Homo sapiens: one gene and its partners. The protein of the gene in region 1 purifies or fractionates together with the protein of each later gene. This does not show direct contact. Each region holds a gene or a part of one and is shown in the gene's direction. Other genes may lie near its edges. The genes, in order: LRRTM1, ATP13A1, LRP11 and PCNX3.

Evidence for each region.
Region 2: the proteins of LRRTM1 (region 1) and ATP13A1 purify together in Homo sapiens (co-immunoprecipitation; 3 studies listed by BioGRID and IntAct, with this or other methods). This does not show direct contact.
Region 3: the proteins of LRRTM1 (region 1) and LRP11 purify together in Homo sapiens (affinity purification with mass spectrometry; 2 studies listed by BioGRID and IntAct, with this or other methods). This does not show direct contact.
Region 4: the proteins of LRRTM1 (region 1) and PCNX3 purify together in Homo sapiens (affinity purification with mass spectrometry; 2 studies listed by BioGRID and IntAct, with this or other methods). This does not show direct contact.

What each region holds. Positions count from the first base shown.
Region 1 is NC_000002.12:80,301,736-80,309,130, reverse strand, and holds LRRTM1 (leucine-rich repeat transmembrane neuronal protein 1 precursor), read left to right. Parts: upstream 1-4,378; 5' UTR 4,379-4,979; exon of another isoform or gene 4,980-5,135; intron 5,136-5,252; 5' UTR 5,253-5,311; coding exon 5,312-6,880; 3' UTR 6,881-7,253; downstream 7,254-7,395. UniProt on the Homo sapiens protein: Exhibits strong synaptogenic activity, restricted to excitatory presynaptic differentiation, acting at both pre- and postsynaptic level.
Region 2 is NC_000019.10:19,653,655-19,660,676, reverse strand, and holds part of ATP13A1 (endoplasmic reticulum transmembrane helix translocase), read left to right. Parts: intron 1-689; coding exon 690-779; intron 780-885; coding exon 886-1,076; intron 1,077-3,268; coding exon 3,269-3,341; intron 3,342-3,527; coding exon 3,528-3,683; intron 3,684-3,760; coding exon 3,761-3,830; intron 3,831-3,910; coding exon 3,911-4,017; intron 4,018-4,493; coding exon 4,494-4,623; intron 4,624-4,743; coding exon 4,744-4,799; intron 4,800-5,022; coding exon 5,023-5,149; intron 5,150-5,223; coding exon 5,224-5,361; intron 5,362-5,437; coding exon 5,438-5,558; intron 5,559-5,976; coding exon 5,977-6,134; intron 6,135-6,532; coding exon 6,533-6,708; intron 6,709-6,782; coding exon 6,783-6,893; intron 6,894-7,022. UniProt on the Homo sapiens protein: Endoplasmic reticulum translocase required to remove mitochondrial transmembrane proteins mistargeted to the endoplasmic reticulum.
Region 3 is NC_000006.12:149,847,340-149,854,361, reverse strand, and holds part of LRP11 (low-density lipoprotein receptor-related protein 11 isoform 1 precursor), read left to right. Parts: intron 1-1,170; exon of another isoform or gene 1,171-1,201; coding exon 1,202-1,359; exon of another isoform or gene 1,360-1,378; intron 1,379-1,797; exon of another isoform or gene 1,798-1,948; intron 1,949-7,022.
Region 4 is NC_000011.10:65,618,760-65,625,781, forward strand, and holds part of PCNX3 (pecanex-like protein 3), read left to right. Parts: coding exon 1-308; intron 309-777; coding exon 778-901; intron 902-994; coding exon 995-1,173; intron 1,174-1,579; coding exon 1,580-1,670; intron 1,671-2,071; coding exon 2,072-2,207; intron 2,208-3,446; coding exon of another isoform or gene 3,447-3,485; coding exon 3,486-3,607; intron 3,608-4,731; coding exon 4,732-4,885; intron 4,886-5,169; coding exon 5,170-5,202; intron 5,203-5,435; coding exon 5,436-5,607; intron 5,608-5,711; coding exon 5,712-5,822; intron 5,823-6,165; coding exon 6,166-6,257; intron 6,258-6,411; coding exon 6,412-6,521; intron 6,522-6,645; coding exon 6,646-6,751; intron 6,752-6,867; coding exon of another isoform or gene 6,868-6,892; coding exon 6,893-6,985; intron 6,986-7,022.

The sequences.
Region 1 (7,395 bases):
TTTCTCTCTCTCTCTCTCTTTTTTTTCTTTTTTCCTTTTTCTGAGACAGAGTCTCACTCTGTTGTCCAGGCTGGAATGCAGTGGCGTGATCTCGGCTCACTGCAACCTCCACCTCCCAGGTTCAAGTGATTCTCCTGCCTCAGCCTCCTGAGTAGCTGGGATTACAGGCACCCACCACCACGCCTGGCTAATTTTTGTAGTTTTAGTAGAGAGGGGGTTTCACAGGTTTCACCATGTTGGCCAGGCTGGCCTCAAACTCCTGACCTCAGATGATCTGCCCACCTCAGCCTCCCAAAGTGCTGGGATTACAGGCATGAGTCACCATGCCCAGGAGAACTTGCATTTCTATTTATTATTATTAATTCATTTATTATTTCTTTTATTATTTATTCTCATCATTTACATCATTCATAGAGCATGGCAGTTAGTTTCTTATTGCTATCCATGTTACCACGTTGCTTTAAGAGTTGGACAAAGTTTGATAAGTAGAATGACCTCAATTTCTAATTTGTTTCTCCTAAGTGGATCTCCTGAGAGCAGCCTTGGGGCCCCCACCCTCAGCCTCTCCATGCACCTTTTGAGCATTCTGTAAAATGCCAGCTGTATGGTATGTGCCCACAGAAACAACAAAGTTAATTCTCTCTTTTTGAAATTGTGACTCCCACTCTCCGCCAATTCTTCTAAAGGTTTCCTTTTAAAGAAAAGCCATGGTTCGCTGCCACTGAAAATTAAAGACAACAGCATAAAGATCAAGGTCCAGGCTGGTGCTAGCGATGACAGAACATTAAAATAATCACTCAAATTTCCTTCCTTGAACATTGACAAAGATTGCTAATGGAAAGCCAATCCCCAGAATGCAGATTCATTTCAGACTTTCTGCACTTGCACCTCTGTGTTCACAAATTATTTTGACTAAAATGAACAAATTGGAAGTGTTGAGATAAAACAGAAGTAATGACATACCAAAAAAAAAATTGTATGTTACTCCCCCACTCCACTTCACAACATAGAGTACCACGAAAAACAGGAGGGCTCATTAGGCAAAGGCTAATTTACAAGGTTGAAGAGAGAAGGAATTAATCGACTCTTCCCTCCGTCAAGCTATACTTCTGGCCTCTCTAACTACAACGAATTTGCTCCATGAGCTTCTCTCTTCTACCTCCCCTTAGTTCCAGATTATGTTTGGCCATCAGATTCATAACTCATATAACCCAGACTTCCTTCCCATTTGCTGAATCCATATTTTCAAGATTCTTATCATTTCTTACCCCAAACTGGAGGTCTGGCCTCAGTGCCCAATCACATGTTGGCATGATGGCTTGGGATGGTATTCTTGATGCCCAACTATTAGTACTAGACTTGCAGCTATAGCGGTTCAGCTAGATGAGCTCAGGTTCCTTCCCCTGACAAACATGGAAAATGTCAAGGGTATTTTCAAAGCATATAAAGCATCTCTTATCCAATATACAACATTTGAAGAAGAAGTTTGCCAACAGAAATCTATGGTCACCCGGGAAGAAGAGATTGATCCAGTACATGCAATAGCTACATTGTAACCTGGTGAATCAGATATTTTCAAAAGACAGGTACAGACATATGAGAGAATAAGCAGGAGGAAAGAAAAAAAACTTCAGGTGAGCTTTTTTTTTCTTTTTTTCCTTTTTTAGTTCATTGGACACTTACAGGCATGAAATTAAAACTCATGAAAAACAGCCATATCGACTTGCTGTGGTGACTCAAAAGTTGTCGTTTCTCGATTCAACTTTGCTGAAACACTCGATTCATGTTGTTCTTATTTAACCTAATTTGCATTGATTTAATCAGTGCTGGTATGCTTTAAATACATAATAAATTGGGATTCTGCAACTTAGATGACTTAGAATAGCTAAATTTCAATAAAGCTCATTTCAATCTGTTAATGTATACGGTTCTGCCAAGGGGTTTAAAACTGTAGAAAAGATGCAAACTTGCCACATTAGAGGTGGGAAAGGCTTAAAGATACCATATAGATGAAATGATTTGCAGGATAATAATGCAAAAAGCAATATATAGAAAATATATATTTATATATAATATATATATATAATTTATTTATTTTAATTACAGCCTAGGAGCATCTTGTAAGTTTTGAGTAGCACACTTAGAAGAAAACTCACATATAAATCAGTGAATTTAATTTTATTCCCTTTCTTTCTTGCCAACACTCAACTCTTCTGCCTCTCTGCACCAGCTCTACAAATCAAGTGACATCCAAAGTGGGACCTCTTCTTGCCCATTTGGCAGCCTCTGTCACCACTTTGCCAAGCAGCCAGCATTAGGAGGATTTTTTTTTTTCCTAGCAACCCTAGGGATTGGGTGGTGTGTACTCACAGTACTCGCTGAATGGCTGGCCGCTGTTTAACCCTGCGGGTGCCTCCTCAACACCCCTCCCCCACCTCCCAACCCTTTAGAGTTTATGGCTCCATCAGCTGGCCTGCTGTCACGAATAATTGTCTTGGCAAGAGGTGAAACCACTTGATGGTGAATTTGTTTGTCTGTCTGTTAAAGTGTTCCGCAGCACCTTGGAGGTGCCAGGATGAAACATGCAAATGCCTGATCCAGAGTTAGGTAGGCAGCAAGAGTGACAGAGAGGCAATCATCAAGAATGGCAAATTAAGAAAGAAAGAAAGAGAGAGAGAGAAAGAAAGAAAGAAAGAAAGAAAGAAAGAAAGAAAGAAAGAAAGAAAGAAAAGAAAAGAAAAGAAAAGAAAAGAAAGAAAGAAAGAAAAAACCATCTGTGCCAGTTGCAAGCTGTATGACCTTGGATAAACCATGATGTCTCTTGGCCTCAGTTTAGTCACGTGCAAAATTAAGGGGGTTGATTTTCTAATGTCTCTTCTAACTCCTAAGACAGCATGTGATGTCTAGGACATTTCAGATTTGTGTTCCTTCCAATTAAATGATACATCTCAGAGATGAATGACCAGGGCAGAGCTCAGATGAATACAAAATGGAATGATTCATGCCCCTGTTCATATGACTTTTCCTGAAAAGTACCACCAGTCTTTGGTGACTTTGATTCCATTGGTTGGCCTCTTCAGCTTAGATGCTAAGGACCAATCCAGTTACTTGTCCAGTCTATCTACCCTGGCTCTGGTAATCCACCCTCATTCCTATCAAAGTAAGTGCCACTACATATAATGCCTACTGATTTTGACTTCCTTAGAGGCAGAAACGATGGGAATTCAAACAGTGGAGCTGGAGACTCACATTTGACTCTCCCTACCATCTCCCTGGGCATCTTTGTCAAGAAGGAAGGCTTGCCCACACTCACTTCCCGCAGGCTTTCTCAGCCATCTTGGAGGACTTTGTTTAAACAGATGACCAACTGACCCTCCCCAGGGCAGACCCTCTACAGACCAGTAGGCACAAGGTGTGTGTGTGGGGAGGTGGGGGGAGAGCTCATTGTAAGGACTCCTATCTATAAATGATTATGAATAGAAATAATGAGGCAAAGGCTTCTCGTCATACTCAGAGGAAAAAGTGGCACAACTTAGTGCAGTCTCAAAGATTAATTAGGATGTGTGTATGGAGACGGGTAGGCTTCATTATGGCTTAAACTATCACGTCCCTACACATTCACACTCTCTTGGAGTGGGGTGCACTGCAGGGCCCAGTAATCACCATGAACAGCACAAGTCAGGGTAAGCCCTCCCCATGTCAGACAGTACAATCGTTCTTTAATCCACTCTGTACCCCATATGTATCTGTGGAGCCTGATGAAGCCCCGGAGGGATCTCAGTCAAGTCTCCCTGCACACAGACATACCTTTTTGCCACACTGGATCTCACACCACCGGGACTTGGATGGCTTCCCAAACTAGGTGGGTTTGGAAAGCATTTCCCCTCTCCACCTCAAAAAAGGGCTGGCTGACTGCAGAATTCCAGTACCCGCAAGAGGGGGAAAAAACCCCAAAAATCTTAGCCAAGCCCCAAATCATTGCCTTCCTGTGTCTTCTCTCAAGTTGCTTTTCTAAAGCAAAGGTCCAAACGTTGATTTCTCTACAGATTCCTACGTATCTCTTACACGTAGACAGTTTTAAAGGGGAAAAGAATATATCCCCAAAAGGCAAGGGGGAGAGCACAGAACATTTCAGTTTCCCACTTGGAAATATCTTGTCGTGGATGATGCTACCCCTACCTCCACCTCCCTCCCCCCTCCTTTTTTTTTTTTTTTTTTTTTTTGAAATATGGACAAAAAAGCTGAAAGTGTTTTCCGTTTCATCAAAAAACATATATTACTTTAGTGGTTCGGTAAAATGTTGGTTTTATGCCCACCCCTTTTCAATCTGCCCATGTCTGAGGTGCTCGGGGAAGACGCACAATCGTGAGCAGCTTACGACACTCAGTGAGCAGTAGGTGCCTGTGCAAGCTCGCGCCGCACACTGCCTGGTGGAGGGAAGGAGCCCGGGCGCCGCTCGCCGCTCCCCGCGCCGCCGTCCGCACCTCCCCACCGCCCGCCGCCCGCCGCCCGCCGCCCGCAAAGCATGAGTGAGCCCGCTCTCTGCAGCTGCCCGGGGCGCGAATGGCAGGCTGTTTCCGCGGAGTAAAAGGTGGCGCCGGTCAGTGGTCGTTTCCAATGACGGACATTAACCAGACTGTCAGATCCTGGGGAGTCGCGAGCCCCGAGTTTGGAGTTTTTTCCCCCCACAACGTCACAGTCCGAACTGCAGAGGGAAAGGAAGGCGGCAGGAAGGCGAAGCTCGGGCTCCGGCACGTAGTTGGGAAACTTGCGGGTCCTAGAAGTCGCCTCCCCGCCTTGCCGGCCGCCCTTGCAGCCCCGAGCCGAGCAGCAAAGTGAGACATTGTGCGCCTGCCAGATCCGCCGGCCGCGGACCGGGGCTGCCTCGGAAACACAGAGGGGTCTTCTCTCGCCCTGCATATAATTAGCCTGCACACAAAGGGAGCAGCTGAATGGAGGTTGTCACTCTCTGGAAAAGGGTGGGTAAGACACTTTTTAATTAAATTCTTTCCCGAAGATTTTTTTTTTCCTCCCTTTTCTTTGCTGCAGCATCTAACATGGACCAAATCACCATCTCTTTGATCTTTCCGTGGCTGTGAACTTTCTATGCTGCCCAGCTTTCTGCATGCTTAGAGGTGAACGTGTGGTTTTTGGGGAGGGGGGTCCTTCTTTATTTCTATGTATTTATTTGATTTTTTGCCCTTTTCTCCCCCTCCCCCGCTTCCCCTCCCTCGGAATAAAATATGATGTAGATTTCTGACCGAGCGCTTCCAATGGACATTCTCCAGTCTCTCTGGAAAGATTCTCGCTAATGGATTTCCTGCTGCTCGGTCTCTGTCTATACTGGCTGCTGAGGAGGCCCTCGGGGGTGGTCTTGTGTCTGCTGGGGGCCTGCTTTCAGATGCTGCCCGCCGCCCCCAGCGGGTGCCCGCAGCTGTGCCGGTGCGAGGGGCGGCTGCTGTACTGCGAGGCGCTCAACCTCACCGAGGCGCCCCACAACCTGTCCGGCCTGCTGGGCTTGTCCCTGCGCTACAACAGCCTCTCGGAGCTGCGCGCCGGCCAGTTCACGGGGTTAATGCAGCTCACGTGGCTCTATCTGGATCACAATCACATCTGCTCCGTGCAGGGGGACGCCTTTCAGAAACTGCGCCGAGTTAAGGAACTCACGCTGAGTTCCAACCAGATCACCCAACTGCCCAACACCACCTTCCGGCCCATGCCCAACCTGCGCAGCGTGGACCTCTCGTACAACAAGCTGCAGGCGCTCGCGCCCGACCTCTTCCACGGGCTGCGGAAGCTCACCACGCTGCATATGCGGGCCAACGCCATCCAGTTTGTGCCCGTGCGCATCTTCCAGGACTGCCGCAGCCTCAAGTTTCTCGACATCGGATACAATCAGCTCAAGAGTCTGGCGCGCAACTCTTTCGCCGGCTTGTTTAAGCTCACCGAGCTGCACCTCGAGCACAACGACTTGGTCAAGGTGAACTTCGCCCACTTCCCGCGCCTCATCTCCCTGCACTCGCTCTGCCTGCGGAGGAACAAGGTGGCCATTGTGGTCAGCTCGCTGGACTGGGTTTGGAACCTGGAGAAAATGGACTTGTCGGGCAACGAGATCGAGTACATGGAGCCCCATGTGTTCGAGACCGTGCCGCACCTGCAGTCCCTGCAGCTGGACTCCAACCGCCTCACCTACATCGAGCCCCGGATCCTCAACTCTTGGAAGTCCCTGACAAGCATCACCCTGGCCGGGAACCTGTGGGATTGCGGGCGCAACGTGTGTGCCCTAGCCTCGTGGCTCAACAACTTCCAGGGGCGCTACGATGGCAACTTGCAGTGCGCCAGCCCGGAGTACGCACAGGGCGAGGACGTCCTGGACGCCGTGTACGCCTTCCACCTGTGCGAGGATGGGGCCGAGCCCACCAGCGGCCACCTGCTCTCGGCCGTCACCAACCGCAGTGATCTGGGGCCCCCTGCCAGCTCGGCCACCACGCTCGCGGACGGCGGGGAGGGGCAGCACGACGGCACATTCGAGCCTGCCACCGTGGCTCTTCCAGGCGGCGAGCACGCCGAGAACGCCGTGCAGATCCACAAGGTGGTCACGGGCACCATGGCCCTCATCTTCTCCTTCCTCATCGTGGTCCTGGTGCTCTACGTGTCCTGGAAGTGTTTCCCAGCCAGCCTCAGGCAGCTCAGACAGTGCTTTGTCACGCAGCGCAGGAAGCAAAAGCAGAAACAGACCATGCATCAGATGGCTGCCATGTCTGCCCAGGAATACTACGTTGATTACAAACCGAACCACATTGAGGGAGCCCTGGTGATCATCAACGAGTATGGCTCGTGTACCTGCCACCAGCAGCCCGCGAGGGAATGCGAGGTGTGATTGTCCCAGTGGCTCTCAACCCATGCGCTACCAAATACGCCTGGGCAGCCGGGACGGGCCGGCGGGCACCAGGCTGGGGTCTCCTTGTCTGTGCTCTGATATGCTCCTTGACTGAAACTTTAAGGGGATCTCTCCCAGAGACTTGACATTTTAGCTTTATTGTGTCTTAAAAACAAAAGCGAATTAAAACACAACAAAAAACCCCACCCCACAACCTTCAGGACAGTCTATCTTAAATTTCATATGAGAACTCCTTCCTCCCTTTGAAGATCTGTCCATATTCAGGAATCTGAGAGTGTAAAAAAGGTACCAATCATTGATTTTTTTTTTTTTTGTAAACTAAAATGTTTAAAATAAAATAGCATTTACAGTTTTTACAGACTGGTGTAACCTAAATGAATTGTTACCTGTGTTACAAGAAAAGCAACAGTTAAAATTTCCTTGGTGGGTGGGGAGGGAGTTGTCCAGGGGCCAGAAGGAAAATCCAGGAGCAACGTAGTCAGATTCAATTTGAA
Region 2 (7,022 bases), on another chromosome or scaffold:
AGCTGGGACTACAGATGCCTGCCACCACGCCCAGCTAATTTTTTGTGTTTTTAGTAGAGATGGGGTTTCACCGTGTTAGCCAGGATGGTCTCAATCTCCTGACGTCGTGATCTGCCCACCTCGGCCTCCCAAAGTGCTGGGATTACAGGTGCGAGCCACTGTGCCTGGCTGGTTTTTTGTTTTTTTTTTTTTAATTGAGATAGGATCTCACTCTGCCACCCAGGCTGGAGTGCAGTGTTGCAATCTCAGTTCACTGCAACCTCCGCCTCCCAGTTCAAGGGATTCTCCTGCCTCAGCCTCCTAAGTAGCTGGTATTACAGGTGTGCACCACCGTGTCCGGCTCATTTGTGTATTTTTAGTTGAGACAGGGTTTCGCCACATTGGCGAGGCTGATCTCAAACTCCTGATCTCAAGTGATCCGCCCACCTTGGCCTCCCAAAGTGCTGGGATTATGGGTGTGAGTCACCGTGCCCAGCCTTGTGCTCCCAGCTTTAAGTGTGGCACCAGAGGCACAGCAAGATGGTCTCGTTTGTCCTGATGACAGACGAGGGAGTGACAGAGGCAGCACCAGAGCCCAGTGGCATTTCAGAATATACCCATAGAGCTGCTGCACCCAAAACCTCCCGGGGGGGTCTTGGAACTGTAGGTTGAGAAGAGCTAAGCCACAATGCTTTCTTTGTCTCTGTCAGGAGTACGACCCCAGCAAAGCGACCTTTGTGAAGGTGGTGCCAACCCCCAACAATGGCTCCACGGAGCTCGTGGCCCTGCACCGCAATGAGGTAGGGACTGCCTGCTGGGCTCCTGGAGGAGGGGCTTGAGTAGGATTCCCAGGCGCTGACACCCCAAGGTCAGGGGCCTCTGTGGCAAACACACCTTCTACCGCAGGGCGAAGACGGGCTTGAGGTGCTGTCCTTCGAATTCCAGAAGATCAAGTATTCCTACGATGCCCTGGAGAAGAAGCAGTTTCTCCCCGTGGCCTTTCCTGTGGGAAACGCCTTCTCATACTATCAGAGCAACAGAGGCTTCCAGGAAGACTCAGAGATCCGAGCAGCTGAGAAGAAATTTGGGAGCAACAAGTGAGTCCTTGATTTGCCTGTAGCACCTTTGCCTTTCTGTCCTGCTCCCCTCCTGATTCAGGGTGCCTAGGAAGCGGGACAGAGGCATCTGCCCTTTTATTTATTTATTTACTATTATTTTATTTTTATTTTATTTTTTATTTTTGAGACTGAGTCTCGCTCTGTCACCCAGGCTGGAGTGCAGTGACGCGATCTCAGCTCACCCCAACCTCCGCCTCCCCGGTTCAAGTGATTCTCCTGCCTCAACCTGCCAAGCAGCTGGGAATACAGGCTCCCCCCACCACGCCTGGCTAATTTTTGTATTTTTAGTAGAGATGGGGGTTTCACCATGTTGGCCAGGCTGGTCTTGAACTCCTGACCTCAGGTGATCCTCCCATGTTGGCCTCCCAAAGTGCTGGGATTACAGGCGTGAGCCACTGCACCCGGCCAAATCTGCCCTTTTAGCCAAATGTCCCAGGTGACTGTGATGCCGCTTGAGCAACATGCTCTAAGTCCAGTCTCCCCTGAACTTGCCTGCTGGCAGGAACCCCAGAGGGTCTGCAGCTGGAAGCCCGTGCCCTGGGGTGTGAGACCTTGAGTGTAAGGTTCTTCACAGGAGTCTAGCCTGTGGCCCCTCCTCAGCAACAGCTTTATTTTAAATTCTTTTAAAATGTTTATTTGTGTAGAGATGGGGTCTCGCCGTGTTGCCCAGGCTTGTCTCAAACTCCTGGCCTCAAGCAGTCCTCCTAAATCAACATCCCAAAGTGCTGGGATTACAGGCATGAGTCACTGCACCCAACCTAAACATTTCAGTCCTCACTGTTTCGAGTCTACGCATCTCAGCGCTTCAGAATGGTGATGGAAGACCGTGACCATGTCTGCCCTTTTGTACTGAGTACAATGGCCAATGTGCGGTGCACACCCTCTCCCTTCATCTTCACCAAAACTGCAAATGCTGACACGTGGCTGGGAGCCGGAGAACTGGGCTCCAAACCCCATCATGGCCTTGTTACGATGGTCCTCAACCCAGAAACCCACAGAACACCTAGGGAGCTCTTTCCTGACTTAATCACTGTTCAGAGATTACAAATATGTTGACTACAACTATCAATCTAATACAAGGATTTATAAGAAACATTTAGCAACTTCCCCTACCCCAAGGTTGGCCAGTCACATTAATGGCCTGTGGCAACTACGTTCCCTTTCATGCTGTTCTTACTCAACGCAAAGGTACCCAGCAAGATACAAGGGAAGGGCTTATTGTTTGATAGCAGTGGGGTTGCTCTTTGGTTTCCTCTTCTCACATCCCATACATAAGACGTCCATGCAGTTAAAGGGCAGAGCGAGAATGACCCTCGTTGACATGACTGGTGCCCTGATCAGATTGGACTATGGCACAGAGTACTGCAGAACACACCCTTAGGCCCAAGTCCTTGCATTCTCGAGCCTTTTTTTTTTTTTTTTTTTTTTTTGGAGACAGGGTCTTACTCTGTTACCCAGGCTGGAGTGCAGTGGTGTGATCATGGCTCACTGTAGCCTTGAACTCCTGGGCTCAAGCATTCATCCTGCCTCAGCCTCCCAAATAGCTGGGACCACAGGCACACACCACCACCCCCAGCTAATTTTTAAATTTTTTGTAAATAGAAGGTCTTGCTGTGTTGCCCAGGCTAGTCTCTGACTCCTGGGCTCAAGCACTCCTCCTGCCTCGGCCTCCCAAAGTGCTTGGGATTACAGGCGTGAACCACCCTACTCGACCCATTCTGGGGCTTTAATTCAGGAATCATAGAAAATCTCAGCTTTGGTGGGGCTGGGTCTCAGTGTCTTCTGCTGTCTGTAGCTTCAGGGCCTCCATCTTTCAATCAGAGGTTCCTTCTCTACTTGCTGTGTCACTCGACCAGATGACGGGCTCTCGTCTGACACCAGCCCCAGGCTGCCAGGAAGAGCATATTGCAGATTAAGGAGCTTCATCTGTTTTATGCAGAGCCGAGGGCTGTGGGCGGGCAGCATGTCTACCCCAGGCTCAGCCAGGATGAGGGAGAGCCACTGCCAAATGGATCCTCCTATCTGGAAGCTCGCCAGGGCTCCCGACGCCCACATATGGCTCTTGGTTTCTTGAGAGCGGCCTGCCATGCTCAGGTTGGAGGGGTCAGGGTGGAGACTCCATACCCCAGAGGCCTTGCCCTGGGAACAGGATGGGGCCTGGTCTCTTGCAGGGCCGAGATGGTGGTGCCTGACTTCTCGGAGCTTTTCAAGGAGAGAGCCACAGCCCCCTTCTTTGTATTTCAGGTAAAGCAGCAGCTCTGGCCCATCTCCCCATTTCCTCCCTTGGGGCTTTCCTAACCGGATCAAGCCTGCCCACCACTTCTAAACCTGGAAGCCTCTCCCCACCCTCACATATCAGATCCGGTGGGTGGAAGGGGCTCATGGGAACAGGGCGGGTAGGGCAAGGACAGACAGGCTGGTATCCCACAGGTGTTCTGTGTGGGGCTCTGGTGCCTGGATGAGTACTGGTACTACAGCGTCTTTACGCTATCCATGCTGGTGGCGTTCGAGGCCTCGCTGGTGCAGCAGCAGATGCGGAACATGTCGGAGATCCGGAAGATGGGCAACAAGCCCCACATGATCCAGGTGTGGCTGCCAGGGAGACCCAGGTTGGGGGTGCAGCACAGGTGCGGCTTCTGTGCTGACACCCATGCCCCGCCCAGGTCTACCGAAGCCGCAAGTGGAGGCCCATTGCCAGTGATGAGATCGTACCAGGGGACATCGTCTCCATCGGTGAGGCCGGGTTCCGCTCAGTCCCAGTGGGAGCCCCAGCCTCAGGGCCTCTGGCCAACCCTCCTGCCTCTGCCCTGCAGGCCGCTCCCCACAGGAGAACCTGGTGCCATGTGACGTGCTTCTGCTGCGAGGCCGCTGCATCGTAGACGAGGCCATGCTCACGGGGGAGTCCGTGCCACAGATGAAGGTACTTGGTGGAGGATGGGGATCCTCAAGCTGTTCAGGAGGAAACAGGCCAGGAGGTGGAGGCCCAGGGGGTGGCGGGGATCCCCCTCAGGCACAGGCGGAGGAGGCAGTGTGGGCACAGATGAGCTCTGTGGACTGGGGAGCCGGGTGGTGGGGGCGAGGAAGGAGGTGAGAGAGCCAAGGGCATCCAGGGTACATTGGTGCCCTGGGATGTCAGACCAAGGTGGGCTGGGAGCAGTCCAGAGGGGTGAGTCCCAGACGAGGCCAAGTGCAGGCCCCAGAGAGCAGGCACTGTGAGTGCAATGGGGAGAAGACAGGACGGGGTGAGGGTGAGGATCTGGGAGCTGGGTGGGATGTATTGGTCGGGTGGGGATCCCCCTGGCTCATTCCAGCCTCAAGGTCCAGCTGTCCAGGAACTCAGATGGAGAAGGAAGCAAGGTAGGCCTGGCCATCCAGATTCACGATCTTCCTCCCCAGGAGCCCATCGAAGACCTCAGCCCAGACCGGGTGCTGGACCTCCAGGCTGATTCCCGGCTGCACGTCATCTTCGGGGGCACCAAGGTGGTGCAGCACATCCCCCCACAGAAAGCCACCACGGGCCTGAAGCGTAGGTGCCTCATGGGCGTCTGGGGGTATCTGGGCTTCCACCCCCTTTGCCCGTCTGCTTGATCATGAGGGAGTCAGGACGAGGAGACAGGCATGACGGTGACTCTGCTTCTCTCCCCAGCGGTTGACAGCGGGTGCGTGGCCTACGTCCTGCGGACCGGATTCAACACATCCCAGGTGCGGGGCCAGGTCTGGGGAGGGCGGGCCCCAGGGCAGTTGGACAGCCAAGGTATCAGCCCTTTCCGACCCCAGAACATCTGCCCCACGGGCTGACTCTGGCAGCACGGCCCTGGACCTGGGCCAGGGTGCAGAGGCCACCCCAAGACCAGGCCCACGCTTCCAGGCCTGAGCTGCTGGAGGGAGTCCAGACAGCAGAAAGGCTGTTCCTCCATTCCTCCAGGGCAAGCTGCTGCGCACCATCCTCTTCGGGGTCAAGAGGGTGACTGCGAACAACCTGGAGACCTTCATCTTCATCCTCTTCCTCCTGGTGTTTGCCATCGCTGCAGCTGCCTATGTATGGATTGAAGGTAAGCGCCACGGCCTCTGTGGTCCCCTGCGCCCACCCTCCGAGGCTCCAGGTTGGCAGGCCCTGTCTCCACAGGTACCAAGGACCCCAGCCGGAACCGCTACAAGCTGTTTCTGGAGTGCACCCTGATCCTCACCTCGGTCGTGCCTCCTGAGCTGCCCATCGAGCTGTCCCTGGCCGTCAACACCTCCCTCATCGCCCTGGCCAAGCTCTGTGAGTGTGTCAAATGGGATGGGGTGCCGAGTGGGCTGGGGCCAAGCAGGACCCCTGACCTCACTCCCGCCCCTAGACATGTACTGCACAGAGCCCTTCCGGATCCCCTTTGCTGGCAAGGTCGAGGTGTGCTGCTTTGACAAGACGGGGACGTTGACCAGTGACAGCCTGGTGGTGCGCGGTGTGGCCGGGCTGAGGTAAGCATCAGGGGCCCTGCAGCAAAGGTCACCCAGATGGGGTTTCTGGGAAGTCGAGAGACAGGTGGCCCATCCACCCCAAGCCCTTGCAGTGAGGGCCCGTCAGAGGCCCTGCCTCGGGTTCATTTCCAGGGGCTCCCCACAAAGTCCTGGGTGTCAGCCATGGTAGCGGCACGGGGGCTCAGCTCAGGCCTGGAACATCCCACACCAGCCATGCACCACATGACCCCCAGGCACAATGCCTGGCTTCTGGGGGCATCTGTGAAGCAGGTGCAGGTCTCATAAAGACCCAGTTGGCGCCCAAGCCACCCCAGTGACAAGCACGGAATGAATGGCCTTGGGGGTCCTTCTGCTGGTGGGGATGCAGCTTCGCCCTACCCGCCTGCACTCTGTAACCAGCTGTTCCCCGACCTTGCAGAGACGGGAAGGAGGTGACCCCAGTGTCCAGCATCCCTGTAGAAACACACCGGGCCCTGGCCTCGTGCCACTCGCTCATGCAGCTGGACGACGGCACCCTCGTGGGTGACCCTCTAGAGAAGGCCATGCTGACGGCCGTGGACTGGACGCTGACCAAAGGTGAGGGGCTGGGGCCTCAGGCCCAGCAAGGGGGAGCCACTGGCTCTCACAGCCCTAGGCAGGTGGGCTGCACCCCTCAGAGCATCTTGGGGACAGGCAGGCCTACAGCTCTGATGCTCCCCGAGGTGGGTGGCCAGAGGCTCACTTTAGACCCAGGATAGGCCACGTCCTTGGGTGTCCCTCTGGGTTGGAATCTGCCCTGCCCTGGCCGAAGCCACAGTGCCAGGGTCCTCCAAGCCCAGGTCTTCCAGCTCTGGACCAACACCTGCTCTAGCCCAGAGCCCCGATCAGGCCCTGGGGGAGGCAGGAGGGAGGTGGGGGAGGCCGGGGTGAGAGGTAGGGGCTTGGCTGCCTCTTTGGAGCAAAGCCCCTCAGGACTCGTACTTATTTGTTTCCAGATGAGAAAGTATTCCCCCGAAGTATTAAAACTCAGGGGCTGAAAATTCACCAGCGCTTTCATTTTGCCAGTGCCCTGAAGCGAATGTCCGTGCTTGCCTCGTATGAGAAGCTGGGCTCCACCGACCTCTGCTACATCGCGGCCGTGAAGGGGGCCCCCGAAACTCTGCACTCCATGGTGAGCTGGCCCCAGCCTGGGGCAAGGGGTGGGGGCGCGGGGCAGCCCGTGACATCCCCCTGCATTCCCTGCAGTTCTCCCAGTGCCCGCCCGACTACCACCACATCCACACCGAGATCTCCCGGGAAGGAGCCCGCGTCCTGGCGCTGGGGTACAAGGAGCTGGGACACCTCACTCACCAGCAGGTACGGGCCCAGGCTCCCCCTGCCTTCACCATGTGCCTGGCCCGTCAGCTCCTCCCTGAGTCACCTCCTGTGTCCCACAGTGCCAGGTTGAATGGTTGTGATTTTGTCCTCCTTGCCCCGCCTCCAGCT
Region 3 (7,022 bases), on another chromosome or scaffold:
GCTGAGGTGGGAGGATCACTTGAGGTCAGGAGTTCAAGACCAGCCTGGGCAACTCTCACTACAAAAGAGTGAAAATAGGTGGGAAGGTTAGCACACACCTGCAGTCCTAACTACTCGGGAGGCTAAGGCAGGAGGATCACTTGAGCCCAGGAGTTGGAGGCTACAGTGAGTGAGCTATGATCGTGCACCAGCCTGGGTGATAGAGACCCTGTCTCAAAAGCAAAACAAAACAAAAACAAAGGTAAATACAGATTTATTTTGCTGTTGTAGTCATCTGAGCCTGCTGGCTTCTATTATAAAAATTAGTTATTAGAAACGGTGAACGTCTTCAATTTTCCTAGATGAAAAATTGGATTCCAGAGAATTTACATGCAGGCTTTATTTTGTATGGCTCTAAAAATTTGCCTTAACTTTTCAAACTTAATATATTTCCCATTCATTGAATACTTTATATCACTCCTATTTTTAAAACTTGAGGATAAGAAAAAAAGAAAATCCATATTAGAGGTGAATTTGGTGTTTTTCAGGTTTGTTTTAATAATCTTTTCAAGGCCAGGCGCAGTGGCTCACGCTGCTAATCCCAGCACTTTGAGAGGCCGAGGCAGATGGATCACCTGAGGCCAGGAGTTCGAGACCAGCCTGGCCAACATGGCAAAACCCTGTGTCTACTAAAAATACAAAAAACAATTAGCAGGATGTGGTGGCACACACATGTAATCCCAGCTACTCGGGCGGTTGAGGCAGAAGAACCGCTTGAACCCGGGAGGGAGAGGCTGCAGTGAGCCGAGGCTGCACCATTGCACTCCAGCCTGGGTGACAAGAGCAAAACTCCATCTCAAAATAATAATAATCTTTTAAAATAAATTTATTTAACAGTATTTTGAACTTAAGTGATTTTAAAATTAAGTGAAAAATCCACTCTAGAAAATAAAACTGCTTCTCCATATTTACACATTGGTGGGACCTCGTATGCTGCCTTGTACCCAAAATCGCTACCAGCCAACACTCCACACAGCCTCTTCTGCGCATATTATAGCTAAATTCCACGATCATAAAATAAATAGAAAAATAATTTCCATTTAATATGGATTCTCTTAGCAGTTATTTGCCGAATCATATCTATTCAGCAAACAAGATACCTCTCCATAAATTAGAAAAAATAAGAAATCATCTTTTATGAATTATTTATTTTCTTTCTCAGAAAAGGATGCGCCTCCACTTAGCAAGGCTGGGCAGGATGTGGTTCTGCATCTGCCCACAGACGGGGTGGTTCTAGACGGCCGCGAGAGCACAGATGACCACGCCATCGTCCAGTATGAGTGGGCACTGCTGCAGGGGGACCCGTCAGTGGACATGAAGGTAACGCATGTTGTCACTGCTAACAAAAACGAGTATTTCAGTGAAGTGGTCTTTTGTAATGTCCTGCCACTTCATGCTCCCTAAATGTCTGTACGCTAGCAGAAGGCATAAAATGGAGACTGTATAAAACTGATTATGCCAAAATGGTTTATTATCTCAATGTGCTTTTCTGCTGAGAGTGAGCAGCAATCTCGATCATTTGTCTTGGAGCCTACCCTCCTTCTAGCTGCTGTTTGTGACTTGTCTAGAGGACAAAGACACTTCAAGGAAGAAGGCTCATGCTTTGTTTTAATGACTCAGATTACTTTTTTAAAGTTCTATTTCTTTTTCTGAGCTCAAGATCCAGGTAGAAAATTTGAAACTACAAAGGAGTCTAAAGAGGACAATAACAATAGGATGAACTTATCCTTCACATGAGCCGGAAAGTAGACAGCTTACCTGGCAGCTAGGTCTGCTGGGGCACACCGAGCCTGTGAGGGAGGGAGGCCAGCATGCGGTGCTCCTGCCCGGGGCTCCTGCCCGGGGCTCCTGGGATAGCCGCCGATGGAAATCAGCCATGTGGCTGGTGGCTGCCTATGCTCAGGAAGTCTTGGGTGGTGAGACAAGTGGCTTTTTATTCACCCTCTCAGGGTGGATTCCTGGCTTAGGCAAATAAGCACTTCCTGGCTTAGGCAGATAAACTGCATCCAAACCACTTCAGTTAGAGGAAGTGGAGAAAGAGGGTGAGGTAAGGAGGCACTGATTTGTACTCTACTGGAACCAAAACAAAAACAAATCTGGAAGTCCCTCATCACTGGTTTAAGTAAGAGTGATTTTACTCCCTGATTATATTGCATTAGAATTGGACTCACCCTCGTCCAGTATGGTTTGCCTTTGTCCCCACCCAAAAATCTCATCTTGAATTGTAATCCCCATAATCTCCACGTGTCAAGGGAGAGACCAGGTGGAGGTTACTGAATTATGGAGGCAGTCACCCCCATGCTATTCTCATGATAGTGAGTGAGTTCTCGCAAGATCTGCTGGTTTTATAAGTATTTGGTTGTTTCTCCTGCCACCTTGTGAAGAAGGTGCCTTGCTTCCCCTTTGCCTTCTGCGGTGATTATACTAGTAAGTTTCCTGAGGCCTCCCCAGCCATGTGGAACTATGAGTCAATTAAACCTCTTTCCTTTGTAAATTACCCAGTTTCGGGCAGTTCTTTGTAGCAGTGTGAGAATGGACTAATACACCCAGCATCCTTCCCAGCCTCTCCTCCAAACAAGAGTGCCTTCCACAACACCCCTTCCAAGGCTCATCTGCCATCTGTCTGACTTTTCCAAGGGCAGAAGCTCACTACTTCACATCATGTCCATGACATTACTCATCACTGTGTTGGGCAAGCAGGCTACGCCTCCCCTTACTTCTGTGCATTGGTGTTGGGTCTTCCCTTTGGAAAAACACTGAACTCATCTTTTTATCCTGTGTAAAAGCTTTGGAAGTCTTTGAAAAAAAGAAAGAAAGAAAGAAAGAACATCACCAATTGGTATGCTGTTCTCAGAACTCAGCACCCCACAGTTTGTCAGATGTTCCTCATATGAATTGATTTTTCAGGCCCGCCACTATCCTGCCTTGTCTGGATTTTCTCATATTAATCCATACCCTTCTTAACATCTAATACCCCTAATTGAACCCCATATTTAAGCTTTGGTTTTCTGACTCATTCATTACCTACTGTGATCCAGATATTGCCTCTCCTTCTATTAATGAGCTTCGTTACATGAACTGTGTCAGTAGCTGCATCACACAGTGGGTTCGTGCTGCATTTTTCTTGCCTTCAAGAGGAAACTCTGAACCAGTTCCCAATCGTGTATAACAGTGACGGCAGGTAGACCTCAAGTTATGAAGCCATCATCTAAATGACAGGGCCTGTACTAGGGGAAACATCTGTTACCAATTTGTGACTGTCTTAGAATGATATACATTCATGAATGTCACCCAAAGTTAACACTCATCCTGCTGAGACTTCATCATAATCAAAGCCCCCACGGATTGAGCACCCACTGAGTGCCAGGCAGCTTAGAGAGATCTGTAATCCACTGGACACCCTCACTTGTAGGCACATCCCCATTTGGTGGATGAAGACTGTCAGGAAACATTGTGGAAGACTTTGAGGTGGGCAAAAGATTACTAAGTACCTTTCAATGGAATGCTGGGTTGGTTAGTGGATCCTTCAGGGTTAACATCTATAAGTTGCAGAAAACTGATAGTAACCAAATGATTCTTGTCCATAGAAATGCAAAAGAAAATTAGGTATATAGGGGTAATTGACTTTCACCCTAGAGAAAATAAGATTTCAAACATGACATTTTAGTACATGTAGATACTAACCGATCTATTAGTAGATTCATTTCAGTACTGATTAGCAAACCCATTTCAGTTTTGCATCTCCTAGCAACTTCTTTTTGGCATTCATGATTGCCTGTATATGTGTAGTCTTCAGATTCTTTAAATCAGTTGAACACCTTATTGGTTCCCTCTTTAACTAATGTCTTTGAAAAATATTCATATTATATTTGTGTGACAGTCATAGCTTTACTATTTTGAGAATTTTCCTTTAACAGTAATTAACCCTCAGGAGCTATGCCTCTGATCCCTTTAACTTGAGCAGCCTTATTTCACACCCCAACATTTCTGCCAGGAGAATTGGGCCTCTCAAATCAAATTCCTTTTTCTCTGAGAATGGCTTCCTGCTGACTGGAACACTGATGCACTCCGCCCTCAAGCTGCAAAATGGGGCTAAGTTTGAAGGTTGTTGAGAATAGAGGGAGGGCAGTCACACAGCAAAATAGTTAAGTTAAAACCTGTTATTGGATGCCCTTGTTCCTAAGTCCCTTGACTGTCCCTAGCACCCAAGAGTGTCCATTGATTGGGCTTTCCCCTGAGCGCCCATCTCCTCCTCTTCTTGAGCCATTCATCCCTCCTCTCATCTCCCCTGCTCTCCACCATCTGCACGGGCTCCTCACCCTTGCTGTCTGTTCTCAGGCAGAGTAGTGATCTCTCCCTTTGCCTCGTGATACTTTAAGATCAGCTTCTAGGGCCCATCTTTTCATGTCCAAGTGACCCAGACAGGTATTCAACCTGCAAGGAATTATGCTGTCAGATTAGTTATGAAACAATTAATAGTTAATTTTTAAGCATCTGGTATGTGTCCAGTACTGTACTAGGCACTAAGCATACAGGAAAGCTCATGTTCCTGACTTGTCTCATTCATTCGTTTATTCATTCATTCATTCATTGACAGGGTCTCTGTTGCCCAGGCTGGAGTGCAGTGAGTGGCACAATCATAGCTCACTGCAGCCTCAAGCAGTCCTCCCACCTCAGCCTACTGAGTAGCTGGGACTATAGTCATGGCTAATTTTTTTTTTAACTTTTTGTAGAGATGAGGTCTCACTATGCTGCCCAGGCTGATCTCAAACTCCTGGGCTCAAGCAATCCTCCCTCCTTGGCCTCCCAAAGTGTTGAAATTACAGGCATGAGCCACAGCACCTGATCTGTCTTTTTCATTTGTGAAGACAGAATGGATGATTGGTCAGAACCAAGAGGCTATCCACTGGATTTAAAGTTATATATTTTATGCCCTTGAACAGGATATTTTACATCCACTTAACTGAATATTTATAATACATCAAAATGCAAGATGACACATATTTTTCAGGCAACCCATTAAATGATGCTGACTTTCATGGTTATTAAACATAATACATTTAAATCTGAAGTCAGAATGTAAAATATGACATTTAGGAACATGATACAAAGTAGGACATTCAGGAGATTTGGAATTCATAAATCAGTATATTGATTTACATTCGTCAGTTGCTTAAAATTTTCTAAATGATTATCTTAGTCCATTTGGTCTGCTATAATAAAACACCATGACTGGGTGGCTTCTAAAGAGCAGAAATGAATTTCTTTCAGTTCTGGATGCTGGGAAGTCCAAAATCAAGGTACAATCAGCTTTGGCGTCTAGTGAGGACCCATTTCTTATTTTATAACCAGCCATCTTCTCACTGTGTCCTCATATGGCAACAGAGGCAAGGCAGCCCTCTGGGGCCTCTTTTATTTTATATTTAAACATATTTTAACTTTTAGGTTAAGGGGTACATGTGCAGGTTTGTTATATAGATAAACTTATGACTTAGGGGCTTGGTGTACAGATTATATCCTCACCTGGGTATTAAGCATATTACCCAGCAGTTTTGTTTTTTTTCTAAACCTCTCCCTCCTTCCATCCTCCACCCTCAAGTAGGTCCCAGCGTTGTGCTGTTCCCCTTTCTCTGTCCATGTGTTCTCATTTAGCTCCCACTTATAAGTGAGAACATGTGGTATTTGGTTTTCTGTTCTTGCATTAGTTTGCTGAGAATAAGGACCTCCAGCTGCATCCATGTTCCTACAAAGGACATGATCTTGTTGTTTTGTATGGCTGCATAGTATTCCATGGTGTATATGTACCACATATTCTTCATCCAGTCTACCGTTGATGGGCATTTAGGTTGATTCCATATCTTTGCTATTGTGAATAGCGCTGCAGTGAACGTATGCATGCATGTGTCTTTATAGTAGAACAGTTTGTATTCTTTGGGTATATACCTAGTAATGGGATTGCTGGGTCAAATGATAGTTCTGTTTTTAGTTATTTGAGGAATTGTCACACCACTTTCCACAGTACACCACTTTTCACAATGGGTGAACTAATTTGCACTCCCACCAGCAGTGTGTAAGTGTTCCCTTTGCTCCACAACCTCACCAGCATCTGGTGGGGTTTTTTTTGTTTTGTTTTGTTTTTTACTTTTTAATAACATGGGACCTCTTTTATAAGGGCACTAACCTCATTCATGAGCACGTATCTCCAAACGCCATCACACTGGGCGTTAGGTTTGAACATGTGACCTTGGGAGGGCACTCAGCCATTCAGTCTACAGCAGTGACTTCAGAAAACCACACGTAAGGAAGCTTGCTAAAGGATGGGCATTATTTAAACCAACAACTTCATTATTAAATTAAAACTAACTGCATCCTGGCCTACCTGCTGTACATAATTTTTTTAAATAGACAGGTATTACTAAGTCTTTGTAACCAAGTATATACAATGTGTGTGTGTGTGTGTGTGTGTGTGTGTGTGTGTGTGTGTGTGTGTGTGTGTGTAATTTAGTTTAGACATATATGAGAAGCCCAAACGTGTATTGCTAGCCACTGAATTCCTAGCTAGGAAGATGGGGTTGAGTCAGACAACAGGCTGAGTCATTCATTGATTTGGCCAGAAGCCAACCACCAAAGGCTGTTACTGCTGAACAGGGATCTTGAGCAGAGATTGGGAGCTCCTGGTTTATGATCATGTCTTTTTCCAAGTTACAAATTGGATATGTTGTGTGTACATATATAGATAGTTTTTTATCCTGATACTTGGAACATGTCTGTGAAACACTGTAAACCCTCTCTCCAGTGTCATCCTAATGGGAGAAAATGTATAGAAGGGTCACCTGGGCCCTTAAAGGGAAAGCATCCGTGTGACAGTTCTACATCTTCTAAATATCTGAATGCAGGAGAGACAGCTCTCGTTAGCTAAAAGAGCTAGGGAAGGGACATTCAATCTGGATAGATCTAAACTGGAGTGTGCTCAGGAGGCTGAG
Region 4 (7,022 bases), on another chromosome or scaffold:
GAAGCGGAGGGCCCCCCATGGGGCTGAGGAGGGAACTGCTGTGCCCCCCAAGCGGCCATATGGGACCCAGCGGACGCCTAGTACCGCCAGCGCTAAAACACATGCCCGTGTGCTGAGCATGGATGGGGCTGGGGGTGATGTTCTGAGGCCCCCACTGGCTGGCTGCAAGGCAGAGCTGGAGGCCCAGGTTGGGGTGGAGCAGGCTGCTAGTGAGCCTGTTGTGCTGCCTGCTGAGGCGCGAAGGGGACCCGCTGCCAACCAGCCCGGCTGGCGGGGGGAGCTGCAGGAGGAAGGTGCTGTGGGGGGAGGTGAGTGCTTGCTCTAGAGGCAGGGGCTGGGGGACGTGAGCTACGGGCTTGGGGTTGGGCAAAGGGCAGGTAAGAATGGACCTGGTCAGTGTCAGCTCAGCCTCGGTTGTAGGCAGCAGATGGACGTGGGCCTGGTGGTGATTGACATTGTCTGCCAAACCTCTTAGACATGGGGCTCAGCCACCTGGCTCCACATCCTTGATTAGCACCTGAGTCTCTGTCCCCTGAGGACTCTCATCATCCACACTCATCCTCCCACCACCAGTGGGGTGGGGCAGGGCCGATCAGTGTCATCCTTGTTTGCAAGTAAGGAAACTGAGCATGGGGCTGTGTGACCTGGCTGGGCCTCAGAGCCGGGGCGTGGTTGTACTAGGCCTTTAGCTCCCTGGCGGAACACCGTCCCCAACCTTACTCCCCCAGCCTTGTCTGAGCATCTGTCACTTACACTTGGGGGCCTCTCTCTGGGCAGCGGCCGAGGAGACTGGCAGGCGGGACCGCTCAAGCAGTGTGAGGCGGACCCAGGCCATTCGGAGACGCCACAATGCAGGCAGCAACCCCACCCCTCCAGCCTCTGTCATGGGCTCGCCGCCCAGGTGAGCACCTTGCCAGCTGTGCCGAGGGGCACCGGGGGCCGGGGAGGGCCCGCAAGCTCTAGCTGGCGCTGACCTGGGGCTGACCCTCTCCAGCAGCCTGCAGGAAGCTCAGCGGGGCCGGGCTGCCTCCCACTCCCGGGCGCTGACGCTGCCCTCTGCGCTGCATTTCGCCTCTTCACTGTTGCTCACCCGGGCCGGTGCCAATGTGCATGAGGCCTGCACCTTTGATGACACTTCTGAGGGTGCTGTGCACTATTTCTACGATGAGAGCGGTGAGCCTTTCCCAAGCCCGGTGGCCCAGTGCCTCCCCGCCTTCCCCCAACAGCCTGAGTCCTCCTAGCAGTGGTGCTCGCTCGGCCCTGTGGCAGGTACACTGCTAATGCTGCCAGACATCATCCTTGCAGCCTCTTTGAGGCACGGTGTCTCTGTCATCTTTTGCTCTGCTGATGAGGAAACAGAGGCTCAGCTTACAGTACAGGGGAGATCTAAAGCTAGGACAGGTGACTGCCGCGCCCAGGCTCTTGACCTGTAGGCCCTTTCCTCTCCAGAGGCTGGGCTGCCCTCTCAGAGGACACAGCACAAGGTTCTGCCTCATTTGATGGGTCTGGTGCCCACGTGAGCCGGGCCTTGGTGCTTCTGTCTCTGCCACGCTGCCTCATCTCCCATACCCTGCCCCAGGTGTGCGGCGTTCCTACACCTTTGGCCTGGCTGGAGGCGGCTACGAGAACCCTGTAGGGCAGCAAGGGGAGCAGACAGCTAATGGAGCCTGGTGAGTTCCCAAGCCTGGCCTCCCAAGCCATTGTCTTGGTGGCCTGCATCTCTGGGAAGTTCCCTGAGCCTGGAGTTTGCTCTCTTCCTGCTGGGCTTGGGCAGGGGCAGCTCAGATCTGCAGGGAGAGGATGGGGAGCAGCAAAGGACAGACCTCCTGGGGTCCCTGGCTCCATGACACTCCGGGCAGGAAGTTTCTAGGAAGCCCAGGGCACAGCCTCGACACTCGTGCCAGGGTCTGGGAGGGAGGCACTTCTGCCACCTGACCCCAGCACTTGTCCCTTGAGCCCTGGTTGGTCTCGGCACAGACAGCCCTACCTGCCTGGCCTTGGCCTCGGCCTCGACCCCACCCAGCCCCAGGGCTCGCCCGTGGGGGGATCCTGATGGCTGCTGTTCTCACAGGGACCGACACTCGCATTCCTCCAGCTTCCACTCGGCTGATGTCCCTGAGGCTACAGGCGGCCTGAACCTGCTGCAGCCGAGGCCTGTGGTTCTGCAGGGCATGCAGGTGCGCCGGGTGCCCCTGGAGATCCCGGAGGTGAGGAGCAGCCGGGGAAGGGCCGTGCCAGTGGGGCGTGACGGGGCGGGCAGATCACTGAGTCCGGCCTGCATAGAGAGCTTGCCCAGGTGCCCCAGGAGGGACGGGCAGTGCTGAGTGAGCGCTCCAGGGGCCCTACTGTGTCTGTCCTGATCTTTGATGTTGGCAGAGACTCTGGGTCTGAATGGCTGGAGAAGTCATTTATTTGCTTACTACGAATTCCTTTGGAGTACATTCCTAACTCTGGAGGGTCCCACAGTGAACAGGGGCCATGGGTGTTAATGATGATACTTGCGGAAGTGGCAGTGTTCTGTTAGCAAGCAGGGACCCTGTGATGACTGTGCTGCCCTGCATACACTGTGCACGTGTGGCTGCTGGGGTGCTCTCTGTTAACACTTCCTGTCTCAGTATACTCATTACCAGCGCTCTGTCACTCTTAAGAATATCACAGTTTGGACAGTAAATTTGTATACTTAATCTATTAACACCAGAAGCGCTAAAAATGCGTGAAACGCCATCTTAGAGCTTAAAGAATGATCATAAAAGGGTACCCGGCACCTGACCCTCAAGGCCACAGATAGGTTGGGCAGCCCCCAGAAGCTCCCACCTGCCCGCTTCTGGTTCATTTCTTCCTTGTAACCATGTGGGGTGGAAGCGTGGCCGGCGGCCGCCTCCAGAGGGAAGGGTTGCGTGCCTCTGGCTCGCCATTTTATCCTTGGATCCCAGGGCAGGGCCGGGCCCATAGCTGGGGCCCCACAAGTGCTTGTTGAGTGAAGGATACAACAAATGAGAGGTCAAGTCATGTGCCCAGGGCCTCAGGGCTGGCATTGGCACCTAGGCATGTCCTCAAGGCTGAGCCCTGCATGCACGCTCGGATGGGGTAGTCAGAGTGACAGTGACAGGCCCTGTCTGGGAGGAGGGTAGCATTTGTGCCAGGTCCCAAAGGACAAGTGGACTTCCTTGAGCTTCAGAAGAGGTGGGAGAGTTTGCCTGACTGGGGAAGACAGGCGTGGGAGCGGGTGACTCTAGGCAGCCCCTGCAGCCACTGGGCGACGTCCTGGGAACCTGGAGAGAGGAGGAGCCCTTTCAGATGAAGGGTTCTGGTGGGGTCCAGGGCCGCTAGACAGGGGCCTTTATGTGCTGATGGAAATGGTCAACCAGACCGGTGTGCTGAAGGGGGGTAACAGTAGACCATGTGGGGGGTGGCGGGGCTGACGGCCGCGGCTGTGGGGACTGCAGTTTGACCTGCTGGACCAGGACTCCCTGCACGAATCCCAGGAGCAGACACTGATGGAAGAAGCGCCACCCCGGGCCCAGCATAGTTACAAGTACTGGCTTCTCCCTGGCCGCTGGACCTCTGTGCGCTATGAGCGGCTTGCCCTGCTGGCTCTGCTGGACCGGTGAGTGTCCCGCAGCCTTGGCCCCCAATTCTTGGAAAGCCCCTGGACCTTGGCTCCCCAGACTCTGTACCTGTGGAGGCAGTCATGGCAGCAGAGAGCCTGACTCGGGGGAAGCTGAGGGCCTGTCGTTGGCTGGAGTCTGCAGTGGTGGTTTCTATGGTTCATTTGTGGTGTAAAGGGGTGGCCAAGTGGGTGGTGCTGTATTAAATCTGTTTATTCCAAAGTCCTGCTGAAAAAAACTTTTTTTGAGACGGAGTCTCTCTCTGTCGTCCAGGCTGGAGTGCAGTGGCATGATCTCGGCTCACTGCAAGCTCCGCCTCCCAGGTTCACGCCATTCTCCTGCCTCAGCCTCCTGAGTAGCTGGGACTACAGGTGCCCGCCACCACACCTGGCTAATTTTTGTATTTTTTTTTTTTTAGTAGAGATGGGGTTTCACAGTGTTAGCCAAGATGGTCTTGATCTCCTGACCTTGTGATCTGCCCGCCTCGGCCTCCCAAAGTGCTGGGATTACAGGCGTGAGCTACCGCGCCCGGCCATCCTATTCACTTTTTTTTTATTAGCTTCTGTTGATTTGAAAATCGAGTGCTGTAACCTAGAAAAGCTCACAGACCAGTTATCTCACTTTTCCCATTTCTCAGAGGGGACACAGAGTCCCAGAAAATCCAATAGAGAAGTCAGATGACTTCTACCCAGTGTAGAGAACTTGGGCCTAGAGCCCATGTGGCTTCCCGTCCATCTGGGTTTCTCTAGGCACAGGGACTGGGTGCTGGTCCTGTGTGCATAGCGTGGCACGCCCAAGGCAGCATGCACGATGTAGCCACGTGCAGTTAACTCAGTCTCAGCTGGGGATGGATGAATCCCGGGAGTAATGGCACCCTGAGCTCTCAGCCCTCAATGTCCAGAGCAGGCAAAGATTGGGAAGGAGAGAGCAATACAATGGTCGCTGGAGCAGGTGCTGCCGGGCCGCGTCGTCGCAAAGTTATAGGTGTTCACATCTTCAGAGGACAAGGGTCTGGCATGGGCACAGTCCCAGAGCTGGGCCTTTAGGGCAAGATCCATCTTCCCCACTGCCCCACTGGAAGGTGAGGCAAGACGGGCACGCCCTGACTAGGCTGTCCCTGCAGGACGCGGGGAGTGCTGGAGAACATCTTCGGCGTGGGCCTGAGCAGCCTTGTGGCCTTCCTGGGCTACCTGCTGCTGCTCAAGGGCTTCTTCACTGACATCTGGGTCTTCCAGTTCTGCCTGGTCATCGCCTCCTGCCAGTACTCCTTGCTGAAGGTCAGGCCGGGCTCTCTGTGTTTCCTTCCCCACCCGACTTTTCCCAAGATTGCCCTTCCCACAACTCCAGTTTTAAGGAGTATAAGCTGAAAGGTAGATAATTTGTCTAAGGTTCCCTAGAGCTGGCCAGCTCTTTTACAAGCAAGAAAACTGAGGCTCAGGACAGTTCGGGGGCCTGACCTGGTCACTCATAACTGCCTAGTGGTGGAGCTGAACAGGTCTGGGGCCTCTGACCATCCCGTGGGCATCGGCTCTAGTTGCCAACGTAGCCCTGTCTCTTCCAGAGCGTGCAGCCTGATGCGGCGTCCCCCATGCACGTGAGTACCCATGGAGCAGCGCCTCTGGCCAGGAGGCCCCGGGAGGGGCTGAGACCAGGTGGGGAGGAGGGTAGGGTATGGAGGGCTGGGGCTCCCTCACCACCCCCATCACCCCCACCTGGCCAGGCTCTCCAGCTTGGACCCAGGGCCAGGCCTGGGGCCCTTGAGTGTGTGCATGTGTCAGAGGTGTGGCCAGTCGGGGAGACCCAGCTCCTCATGGGCTGACCCCTCAGGGCCACAACTGGGTGATCGCGTACAGCCGTCCTGTCTACTTCTGCATCTGCTGTCTGCTCATCTGGCTGCTGGACGCCCTGGGCTCAGCTCAGCCCTTCCCACCTGTCTCCCTCTACGGCCTCACGCTCTTCTCTGCCTCCTTCTTCTTCTGTGCCCGAGACGTGGCCACTGGTGAGGCTGGGGCAGGGATGAGGTGGCCCAGGAGAGTGAGTCCCCGAGGGTGGGCCGCGGAAAGCCAGCAGGCTGACCAGGCCTTCGTGTCCCCTCCCTGCCAGTGTTCACCCTGTGCTTCCCCTTCGTCTTCCTCCTGGGCCTCCTGCCCCAGGTCAACACCTGCCTCATGTACCTGCTGGAGCAAATAGATATGCACGGCTTCGGGGGCACAGGTATGATGCCCACAGGTGGCTCAGGGATGGGGCCCGTGTGGAGGCCCAGGAGGGCCCTCGGATTGGGTCCTTGGCTCCACCCTTGCGGAACCTTCTCCTGCGTCTGTACTGCAGACTCAAGGTTTCTGCCTTCTCCCCTCTCCTTCCCTCCCCAGGCAAGTGGTTTATATCTGAGAATCTTGGAAGCTCTAAAGGCCGCTTGGGGCTTGGGGCAGCAGAGAACAATGGGCTGGGGGTGCCTTTCCAGGGAGGCCAGCCTCTGGGAGTTGAGGGGAAGCGCGGCTAGGGTTGAGGTGGGGTACCTGCAAGTGAGAGCTGGGCTGTACTTCTCCCTTCCACACAGCTGCCACCAGCCCGCTCACGGCAGTCTTCAGCCTCTCCCGCAGCCTGCTGGCTGCTGCCCTGCTCTACGGTTTCTGCCTTGGGGCCATCAAGGTAGGGGTGGCTTGCGAGGTGGGGGCATGCTGCAGTGCGTAAGGGTGGTTGGGGCGGGGCTGTGAACTGGGCTCAGCAGTGGCTTCTCACACGGGGGCAGCCCGGGCCCCATGCTTACCTCACCTCCCCTGACCAGCATGGATTCTCTCCGCAGACTCCGTGGCCAGAGCAGCACGTCCCTGTCCTCTTCTCAGTCTTCTGTGGCCTCCTGGTGGCACTGTCCTACCACCTGAGCCGGCAGAGCAGCGACCCCACCGTGCTCTGGTGGGTGTGCTCCGGGTCGTGTGTTTGTGTCTGCCCAGTAGGGGTTTGTGGTCTGTGCATGTGCCCGTGACTGGGGCCGGGGGGAAGGAGGGGCGGCCTCCTCCTGACTCTTCCTCACCCCCAGGTCTCTGATCCGGAGCAAGCTGTTCCCTGAGCTGGAGGAGCGCAGCTTGGAGACAGCCCGGGCCGAGCCCCCGGACCCCTTGCCGGACAAGATGCGCCAGTCGGTGGTGAGGGGGCGGGGGGTGGGGGTCTGTGGGGAGGTGGTGACAGGTCCTGGGGTTCCTGGGAGGGGCATGTCCAGCTTGGGCTGCTGGGCAGCTGAGTGTCTCTCCTGGCCGGGCAGCTGAATGTCTCTCCTGGCCCTGCAGCGTGAGGTCTTGCACTCCGACCTGGTGATGTGTGTGGTGATCGCCGTGCTCACCTTCGCCATCAGCGCCAGCACCGTCTTTATTGCCCTGAAGGTTTGTGTGGCATGGGCCGCTGCTGCCTCTCGCTGTC